Linked DNA regions of Homo sapiens. The protein of the gene in region 2 interacts with the protein of the main gene of each other region in a pairwise test. Each region holds a gene or a part of one and is shown on either strand. Other genes may lie near its edges.

Evidence for each region. Proteins that work in one complex are often made in the same cells at the same time.
Region 1: the proteins of AAR2 (region 2) and EAPP interact in binary tests that used the Homo sapiens proteins (3 or more experiments, as listed by UniProt).

The regions. Positions count from the first base shown.
Region 1 is NC_000014.9:34,515,690-34,522,725, forward strand, and holds the end of EAPP (E2F-associated phosphoprotein), read right to left. Parts: intron 898-7,036; coding exon 621-897; 3' UTR 249-620; downstream 1-248. UniProt on the Homo sapiens protein: May play an important role in the fine-tuning of both major E2F1 activities, the regulation of the cell-cycle and the induction of apoptosis. Promotes S-phase entry, and inhibits p14(ARP) expression.
Region 2 is NC_000020.11:36,253,442-36,257,433, reverse strand, and holds the end of AAR2 (protein AAR2 homolog), read right to left. Parts: intron 1,857-3,992; coding exon 1,689-1,856; 3' UTR 501-1,688; downstream 1-500. UniProt on the Homo sapiens protein: Component of the U5 snRNP complex that is required for spliceosome assembly and for pre-mRNA splicing.

The DNA.
Region 1 (7,036 bases), on a different chromosome or scaffold from region 2:
GCCCAGTTGATTTTTCTATTTTTAGTAGAGACAGACAGCGTTTCACCATGTTGGTCAGGCTGGTCTCAAACTCCTAAACTCCTGAACTCCTGATCCACCCGCCTTGACCTCCCAAAGTGCTGGGATTACAGGCAGGAGCCAAAGCTACCAGCCTATTCCACGCAATTGTAACAGTTACTAAATACTGTCATTCATCATGTGGGGTGGGGGTGAATAAAGATACATCTTAGCAAAAACAATACAGACAATTCAGGAAAGAGTTTCCAGTTTAATTACATCAAAGCTATATCCAAAATAAAAATAACACTCAGAAACAAAGATTGCTTATAATTCCAGAACATTTTAATTCTACAGAGCTTTAATAAAAAGCCCGACAGTTTCCAAATGTTCATCAAAAACAGAATGAATATCAGTCCCATCAATAAGGGGGAAAATCAAAGAAAAAAAAAAGGAGAGGGTGAGAGATGTAAGAGATGAATGAAGGTTGACAACTATTCTCCTTTAAAAAGAGAAACACTGCTTCCTCAATGTCACTGAAGGATATGAACAGGCAAGAGGAAAGTAACTGTCCATATTTGCCTTATATACAGTATTGGGTAATTAAATGCCAGTTGGGCTGTTTAGGAATGGCTTGCTAAAACATTGAAAAAATGAAAGACTTCATCCTTGTCGTAGACTGCCACTTCAGTGGAACATTCAGTGCACATGACTGGGTGATAGATTTCTTCCACATCTGTCTCTGCCTTCTCGGCAGCATCTTCCCGGTTAGACCTCATCTTCTTATGGACCCGCCTTTTCTTCCTGTTCTCTGAGGCTTTATATCTTAGAACCTCCTCTTTGTTAATAGAACAATTCATTACAAACATTGCTCTATATTGAGTTTTGTATGATTCATGCCTAAGAGAAAAATGAAATGGAGAATTGGGGTTTATGTTCTATGTTAATAGTTTATCCATTTAGATAAAATTTGAGAATACCAAAAACTTACTGAAATACCAACCAAAGACAAGACACAGGAACAAAACAGCAAGTTTAAAGAAATTTTAAACAGTTGTTTTAAGAATAATTAAAACTTGTGAACACAGCTCACTGCAGCCTTGAACTCTTAGCCTCAAGTGATCCTCCTGCCTCAGCCTCCCTGGTAGCTGGGATTACAGGCACAAGCCACTGCACCAGGCAGAAGAAACATTTTAGTATGTAACAGTGTAAGGAAGAAATGTATCCTCTTTCCTTCTGCTTTTTGAAAGTAACTTTTTTTTTTTTTTTGAGATGGAGTCTCGCTCTGTCGCCCAGGCTGGAGTGCAGTGGCGCGATCTCGGCTCACTGCAAGCTCCGTCTCCTGGGTTCACGCCATTCTCCTGCCTCAGCCTCCCGAGTAGCTGGGACTACAGGCGCCCGCCACCATGCCTGGCTAATTTTTTTGTATTTTTAGTAGAGATGGGGTTTCATTGTGTTAGCCAGGATGGTCTCGATCTTCTGACCTTGTGATCTGCCCGCCTCGGCCTCCCAAAGTGCTGGGATTTCAGGCGTGAGCCACCGCACCCAGACGATTCTATTTCTTTTTTTTTTTTTTTTTGAGATGGGGTTTCACTCTTGTTGTCCAGGCTGGAGTGCAATGGCGTGATCTCAGCTCACCACAACCTCTGCCCCCCGGGTTCAAGTGATTCTCCTGCCTCAGCCTCCCAAGTAGCTGGGATTACAGGAATGCACCACCACACCTGGCTAATTTTGTATTTTTTAGTAGAGACAGGGTTTCACTATGTTGGTCAGTTTCATCTTGAACTCCTGACCTCAGGTAATCTGTCCACCTCGGCCTCCTAAAGTGCTGGGATTACAGGCATGAGCCACCGTGCCTAGCCTGATTCCTTGTATTTCTGTGGTCTCAGTTGTTATGCCTTCTTTTCTATTTCTAATTTATTTGGGCCTTCTCTCTTTTTTTCTAAGAGGTTTGTCAATTGTATCTTTTAAAATTATCAACTTTTAATTTCATTAATCTTCTGGCTTGTTTGTTTGGGTTTTTTGGGGTCTCAATTTCATTCATTCCTGCCTTGATCTTTATTATTTCTTTCCTTTTATTTTATTTAATAAATTAATTTTTTTTTTGAGATGGAGTCTCGCTCTGTCACCCAGGCTGGAGTGCAATGGTGTGATCTCGGCTCACTGCAACCTCTGCCTCCCGGGTTCAAGCGATTCTCCTGCCTCAGCCTCCTGAGTAGCTGGGATTAAAGGTGTACGCCACCACACTTGGCTCATTTTTGTATTTTTAGTAGAGACAGGGTTTCACCAGGTTGGTCAGGCTGGTCTCAAACTCCTGACCTCGTGATCTGCCTGCTTTAGCCTCCCAAAGTGCTGGGATTACAGGTGTGAGCCACCATGCCCAGCCTCTTTCCTTCTATTAATGTTGGATTTGGTCTGTCCTTGCTTTTCTAGTTCCTTGAGGTGTATCATTAGATTATTTGGGTGAAATGTTCTGTAAATGTCAGTTAGGCTTCTTTGGTCTACTGTGTAGTTTAACTCTGATGTTTCTTTATGGTTTTCTATCTGGATGATCTGTCCATTACTGAGAGTGGAGTGTTGAAGTCCCCTACTATTATTGTATTGCAATACTAATACTGTATTGTATCTCTCCCTTTAGATTTTTTTTTTTTTTTTTTTTTTTTTTTGAGATGGAGTCTCACTCTGTCACCCAGGCTGCAGTGCAATAGCACGATCTTGGCTCACTGCAACCTTCACCTCCCAGCTTCAAGTGATTCTCCCACCTCAGCCTCCTGAGTAGCTAGATTACAGGCACCCGCCATCATGCCCAGCTAATTTTGGTATTTTTGTGGAGATGGGGTTTCACCATGTTGGCCAGGCTGGTCTCAATCTCCTGACGTTGTGATCCACCAACCTCGGCCTCCTGAAGTGTTGGGATTACAGGCGTGAGCCACTGCGCCCAGCCCCTTTGGATCTATTAATGTTTATATACCTGGGAGTTCCAATGTTGGCTGCATAGATATTTATACTGTTATATAAATTCCTCTTGCTGAATTGACCCCTTTATATAGTAAACTTCTTTGTTTCCTTTTTACAGTCCTTGATTGTAGTCTGTTTTAAGGACAGCTATTCCTATACTGGTTTCCAGCTGCATGAAATATCTTTTCCCATTCATGTTCAGTCCATGTGTCCTTACAAGTGAAGCAAGTTTCTTCTAGGCAGCATATAGTTGAGTCTTGTTTGTTGATCCATTCAGCCACTGTCTGCCTTTAAATTGGAGAAGTGAGTCCATTTACATTGTGTTAGTACTGATAAGTAAGGATTTGCTACTGATGTGGCTTGGGTCTGTGTCCCTGCCCCAATCTCATGTCAAATTGTAATCTCCAATGTTGGAGGTGGGACCTGGTGGGAGGTGACTAGATCTTGGGGGCAGACTTCCCCCTCGTGCTGCTCTTGTGATAGTGAGTACTCACAAGATTTGATTGTTTAAAAGTATGTGGCACCTCCCCTCTCTCTCTTCCTCTTGCTCTGGCCATGTAAGATGTGCCTGCTTCCCCTTTGCCTTCTGCCATCATTAAAAGTTTCCTGGCCAGGTGCACTGGCTCAAGCCTGTAATCCCAGCACTTTGGGAGGTCAAGGCGGGTGGATCACCTGAGGTCAGGAGTTCAAGACCAGCCTGACCGATATGGTGAAACCCCACCTCTACTAAAAATACAAAAATTAGCCAGGAGTGGTGGTGTGTGCCTGTAGTCCCAGCTACTTGGGAGACTGAGACAGGAGAATTGCGTGAACCTGGGTGGTGGAGGTTGCAGTGAGCCAAGATCGTGCCACTGCACTCCAGCCTGGGTGACAAGCAAGACTCCCTCTCAAAAAAAAAAAAAAAGTTTCCTGAGACCTCCCCAGCCATGCTTCCTATACAGCCTGTGGAATTATGAGCCAATTAAACTTCTTTCTTTATAAATTATCCAGTCTCGGGTATTTCCTTATAGCAGTGCAAGAGCAGACTAATACAACTACTGGCATTTTGCTGCTTTTTTTCTGGTTGTTTTGTAACTCTTCCCTTCCTTACTGTCTTCCTTCGTGATTAAGTGATTTTCTCTGGTAGTATGTTTTAATCCATTGCTTTTTGATTTTGGTGAATCTATTATAGGTTTTTGCATTATGGTTATCATGAAATCACAAAAAAAAAACTTACAGTTATAACAAGGTTCTTTCTTTTCTTTTTTTTTTTTTTTTGAAACAGAGTTTCGCCCTTGTTGCCCAGGCTGAAGTGCAGTGGCGCAATCTTGGCTCACTGCAACCTCCACCTCCCTGGTTCAAGTGATTCTCCTGCCTCAGGCTGCTGAGTAAGCTTGGATTACAGGTGTCCGCCACGACTTCCGGCTAATTTTTTATATTTTTAGTAGAGATGGGGTTTCACCATGTTGGCCAGGCTGGTCTCGAACTCCTGACCACAGGTGATCCACCTGCCTCAGCCTCCCAAAGTGCTAGGATTACAGGCATGAGCCACCATGCCTGGCCCAGTTCTTTCTTTTCTCTCTTTATTTTTTTCTTCTTTTTTTGAGACAGAGTCTCACTCTGTCACTCAGGCTGGAGTGAAGTGGTGTGATCTTGGCTCACTGCAACCTCCACCTCCTTGGTTCAAGCAATTCTCCTGCCTCAGCCTCCCCAGTAGCTGGGATTACAGGCACGCGCCAACACGCCCAGCTAATTTTTGTATTTTTAATAGAGACAGAGTTTCACCATGTTGGCCAGGCTGGCCTTGAACTCCTGACCTCAGGTGATCCACCCTCCCCTGCCTCCCAAAGTGCTAGGATTACAGGCATGAGCCACCACACCTAGCCCTTTATTTCTGAGACAGAGTCTCACTCTGTCCCCCAGGCTGGAATGCAGTGGTGCAATCTCAGCTCACTGCAACCTGTGCCTCCCAGGTCCAAACAATTCTCGTGCCTCAGCCTCCCAAAAAACTGGGATTATAGGCAAATGCCACCATGCTCAGCTAATTTTTTAATATTTTTAGTACAGAGGGGTTTCACCGTGTTGGCCAGGCTTGTCTCAAACTCCCTGCCTCAAGTGATCCACCCGCTTCCGCCTCCCAAAGTGCTGGGATTACAGGATAAACCACCACACCCAGCCTGGCATTTTTTTTTTTCATTCCACTCCCTCCTGATCTGTATGCTTTCCACTGAGAAATCTGTTGCCAGATGAACTGTAGCTACTTTATATGCTATTTGCTTCATTTATCTTGCTCCTTTCAAGATCCTCTCTTTGTCCATAACCTTTGGACAGTTTTACTGTTTTATTGTTATATGCCTGGGGGTGGTTTTATTTGAGTCAAATGTGTTTGGTGTTCTCTGGCCATAAATATCTCCTTCTCAAGTTTTGGAACATTTTCTGCTATTATTATAATTATTATTTTTGAGACCAAGTTTTGCTCTTGTTGCCCAGGCTGTAGTGCAATGGTGTGATCTCAGCTCACTGCAACCTCCGCCTCCTGGGTACAAGCGATTCTCCTGCCTCAGCCTCCCGAGTAGCTTGGATTACAGGCATGCACCACCACGCCCAGCTAATTTGATTACATTTTTAGTAGAGACAGGGTTTCACCATGTTGGCCAGGCTGGTCTCGAACTGCTGACCTCAGGTGATCCACCCACCTCCGCCTCCCAGAGTGCTGGGATTACAAGTGTCAGCCACCATCCCCAGCTACTGCTATTAATTTTTTGAATAAGCTTTCTACTCCTTGCTTTTGCTCTACTCCCTCCTGAGTACCAATTCTTAGATTTAATCTTTTGAGATAATATTTTATATCTTGTAGACCTTCATACCTTTTCTTTCTCCTCTGATTGTGCATTTTCAAACAGTCTATCTTTAAGCTCACTGATTCTTTCTTTTGCTGATCCCTTCTGCTGTTGAGAGCCTCTAATGAATTTTTTAGTTCAGCAAATATATTTCTCAGAGTTCCCAGATTTCTTTTTTTTTTTTTTTTTTAGATGGAGTCTCGCTCCATTGCGCAGGCTGGAATGCAGTGGCATGATCTCGGCTCACTGCAACCTCTGCCTCCTGGGTTCAAGCGATTCTCCTGCCTCAGCCTCCCGAGTAGCTGGGACTATAGGCACATGCCACCACGCCCAGCTAATTTTTTGTATTTTTAGTAGAGACGGGGTTTCACCATGTTAGCCAGGATGGTCTCGATCTCCTGACCTCGTGATCAGCCCTCCTCAGTCTCCCAAAGTGCTGGGATTACAGGCGTGAGCCACTGTGCCCGGCTGAGTTCCCAGATTTCTGTTTTATTTTATTTTGTTCTTCTTTTAGAGACAGAGTCTGACTCTGCCACCCATTCTGGAGTACAGTGGCACAATCATGGCTCACTGCAGCCTCGACTTCCAGGGCTCAAGTGATCTTCCCACCTCAGCCTCCAAAGTAGCTGGGTCTATAAGCGTATGCCAAGACACCAACTAAGTTTTTTTCGTTTTCTGTAGAGACAGAGTCTTACTATGTTGCCCAGACTGGTCTCAAACTCCTGGCCTCAAGCCATCCTCCCAGCTTGGCCTCCCAAAGTAGTGGGATTACAGGTATGAGCCACTGTGCCCATAATTTTTTTAATTATTTCGATCTCTGTTAAATTTATCTGATAAATTTCTGAATTGCCTGGGCTGTCTTGGAGATCACTCAGTTTTCTTAAAACTGCTATTTTGAATTCTTGGTCAGAGAGTTCACATATCACAGTATTGTGATATGTGATATGTGATAAGGGTTCACTTGATTCCTTGTTTTGTCCATTTGAAGAGGTCATGGTTCCATTTGCTACTGTGTCTTGTGGATGTAAATGTACATCTTTGTATTGAAGGATTAGTTATTTGTTCCAGTCTTCTCTGCTTTGCTTTTTTTTGGTTATTAGATATGTTTGCCTAGAGATTCTTTGTAATTTGCAATTTGCATGTTGATATTCTTTCTTTTTCCTTTCTTCCCACTACGTCATTGCTTCCTTTTTGGCACCAGATGGCACTTTAAGCCTCAGTTCTAGTAAACACTGAGCGTGCTGCCTGTTCCAAATGAAGTG
Region 2 (3,992 bases):
CAGCAGTCACTGCCATTCCATACTGTCTTATTCTCTGGTAACCGCTAATTGACTCTCCCTCTTTGTGGATTTGTTTCTAGTGGACATGCCACGTGAATGGAATCACATAATAGGTGGTCCTTGTGTCTTTGACTTAGCACATTCTCAAGGTTCATCCGTGTTGTAGCATGTATCAGGACTTCACTCCTTTAAAGATACAGTTTTCACAAGCTCCCCAGCTAGTTCTGATGAGTGGGCTTTGGGAGAAAAAGAGGAGCCAATTCATATCAGGTGATTCTTGGGTTATTATTGAGACATGGGGCCTCATCCCTTCTTCCTTGTGTGCCTGTCTCAGGGGCCTCAAGAGGAACAGGAGGAACACTGGCTGCCTGCCTCTTCCAGACTCCAGAGGTTGGGCAAGTCTCCCATACACTGGAGGGAGGTGTGTGTCTATGGACAGTAGCCTGGCTGCTCTGGAGATCAGGCGGATTAACTGCAAGAGACACACACACACAAGGGGATTGTCTCAACTCGAAGACTTTAATGTACATTATGCTCTTGGAAAAACATCTCCAAGGAAACAAGTGGAAGCAAAAGTCTCAACCAGCAGGGATTCTCATTCAAAAACATGGTGTGAGCCCCAGTCTTGGAAAAGGATGGCACAGGGACTGTGATCATAGTACAACAGTTTGATGTCAGGGTGGCAGGGCCTGTGTACTTGTCTAGAGAGGAACCCTGCCACACAGCACGAAGGACTCCCGAGGAACCAGGAGCTCATTACTCCGGTGACTGACAGCTCCACAGCGGGACTGGGAAGATTTAGGCTGACCAGGTCTTCTTCAGCACTTGGAAGGCACAAAACTTCGTAAAGGCCTTAAGAAGCCTGCTCTGGGCAGAAACCTTTCTGGTTGTTGTTGACTCTCCAGGTCATCAGAAACAGTCACGGTGGCTCTGGTGAGGAAGGGGAGGGTCCCACTTCTGGGTGAGGCCTCGGAATGGAACAGGTGGGAGGTGACAGCACCAGCAAGGCCTCTGAGGCCAGGGTCCACACCCACCTTGGGAGATGACCCACTGGGCCTCTGGACAGGAGAATGGGATTTCGATGGAGAAAGCTGAAGCTGACCACCTGCTAGATTGAATCCAGCTGCCTCCCTTGAAACTCTCTTCCCAATCAAGGGCTCCCAAGGAGCTGCAGGCCAAGTCCTCTGCTCCTATTTAGCAAGAGGCAGGCGGCAATTCGGGCTGATCTCCCCATCACCCTTCATTTAACCGCAAAAAAAGTCACCAACCAACTTCTCAGACCCCCTGGGCAATCCAGGGTTTCTTGTTTCCTAAGCTCCTATGGAACAAGCAATCAGTTCTTTCTTGGACTTTTGGTTCAATTCCTTCTCATTCAGAGGAAATATGGTTGCCGTGTAGGCAGATGTCTCCTAGGAGCGTGTGTGTGTAAGAGCCTGTGTGAAATTCAGCCAGGTTAGCACCAAGGCCTGGCTGATGGGGAACCCACAAATGTGCCTTCAGGATGGGTACAGCCTCTTTGGCAATGAAGAAATATATTTATCAGTGAAAAAGGGAATTCTGGCTCCATCTTTGCAGGACCTGGAGAGATTGCTGCCCTGGCAGGTCCCAGGATGGGAAGAAGTAAATGGAGAGGCCAGGACTGCAGCCCTGTGGGAAGGGGCCCCTCGCAGCTGAGAGCGCTCCCCGAGTTAGCCCATCTCGATGCCCTCAGGGAGCTCCACCACCACCGGGGCACAGTCCTCAGGTTCCGCAGCAAAGTCCCACCGGAACTTCTTGGTCAGGTGAGCTTGGAACTTTTCAGCTTTCTTTCTCAGGGTGGCATCCACGGCAATGCTGCAGGCAGAGGAAAAGAAAACCTACAGAGAACAGAGGATAAGTCACTCCTGAGAAGACGGAGGGCAGGGGGCGAGAAAGCTGTGGAAATTTCCTCATGGTGTTCGGCTCTTCTGGGGCGGGTAGATCAGCTGCTGCTGGCATAGGCCCAGGACACCTGCTATGCTCCCCCCAAACCAAGAAAGAAGGTCCAAACCCAGCTGAGATGCTAGGGCAGGACTAGAATGGAAAATTACTATCTGGGCAGAGGCTGGGGGCCATTACCCTGGCTCCACCCCCTGGGGGGTTCTACTGGACACCCGGGCAGTAACCCAGAGGAACAGGTAGTAGCTACACCAGTCGGTACTAAGGTCCTAAGAAAGGCTTGGGGGTGCTTATAAGCCCCTGGATCCCATAAAGTCCCAGGCCCCAAGCCAACACGACTGAATTGCTGCTCTAATCTTCTAAATGGGCCACAGGCTGCCAGTTTGAGGCTTCTATCCCCCTTAAAAGCTGTCTTTGATTTTTTTTTTAATTGTGGTAAAATATACAGATGGACCCTGACTTACATTCAATTTATGACACTTCGACTTTATGATGATGCAAAGTGATACACATTCAGAAGAAGCTGCACTTTGAATTGTTTCTTTCAGTACAGTATTCAAGAAATTACATGAGATATTCAACACTTCCTTATAAAATAGGCTTTGTGTTAAATGATTTTGCACAACTGTAGGCTAGTGTTAGTGTTCTGAGCACGTTTGAGGTGGGTGAGGCTGAGCTACAATGTTAGGGACGTTAGGTGTAATCAATGCATTTTTTACTTACGGTATATCTGATTTACAGTTTATTAAGACATAACCCCATGTGAAGCTGAGGAGCATCTGTACATAAGATCTACCATTTCAACCATTTAAAAATATTTTTATTTTTTAAACTGTGGCAAAATATACATATTATTTTAGCCATTTTAAGTGTACAGTTGAGTAGCATTAAGTACACTGACACTGTTGTACAACCATCACCACCATCCATCTTCAGAATGACCCCATCATCCCCGGCCAAAACTCTGCAGCCATTAAACAGCAACTCCCCCTTCCCTCTTCCCTCCAGGCCCTGGCAACCCACATTCTACTTTCCAACTCTGTGAATTCGACTACCCTATCCCCCTTCCCTCCTCCCACCAGGCCCTGGCAACCCACATTCTACTTTCTGTCTCTATGAATCTGACTACTCTAGGCACCTCATCTAAGTGGAATCATACAGCATTTGTCCTTTTGCAACTGGCTTATTTCACTTAGCATAATATCCTTCAAGGTTCATTAATGATGCAGCATGTGTCAGAATTTCCTTTCTTTTGAAGGCTGAATAATATTCTGTTGTATGCAGATACCACATTTTGTTTGTCTAGTCATCTGTCAATGCCTATTTGTGTTGTTTTTACCTTCTGGCTATCGTGAATAATGCTGCTATGAACATGGGTGTACACATATCTCTTAGGGTCTCTGCTTTCAGTTCTTTTGCACAGAAACCCAGGAGTGGAGCTGTTGGATCATACGGGAACTCCCTGTTTAAATTCTGATGAACTGCCACAGTTTTTCACAGGGGCCGTACCATTTTATATTCCCACCAGCAATGCACAAAGGTTCTCATTTCTCCACATCCTGGCCAACGCCTGTTATTTTCTCTGTGTGTTTAAATCATGCCATTCTAATAGGTAGGAGGTAGTATCTTACTGCAGTTTGGATTTGCATTTCCCTAATGATCAGTGGATATTGAGTATGTTTTCATGTGCACATTGGCCATTTGTATATCTTCTTTGGTGAAATGTCCATTCAACTTCCTTGCCCATTTGTAAATTGGGTTGTTTTTGCATTGTTGAGTTGTAGGAGTTCTTTATATATTCTGGATATCAACCCCTTATTCTGATGCTCTCATGAACAGTTTCATTTAATACAAACATGGGCAGGGGAGCAGAATGGTAATTTTTTCCACATCTGAAACCCCATTCCAGATTGTCCTGGATCCCAGTCCCTCCCTAAGAGTAATAGCAAACCCATGATTCCTTCTTATACTATTTTACTGTTTTCAAAGAAGTTTCACAGAGCATCCAACTGGATCCTCCCAATACCCTGGAAAGATACAACAGAATGCCTATTTTAAGGAAATGGAAGCTGAGA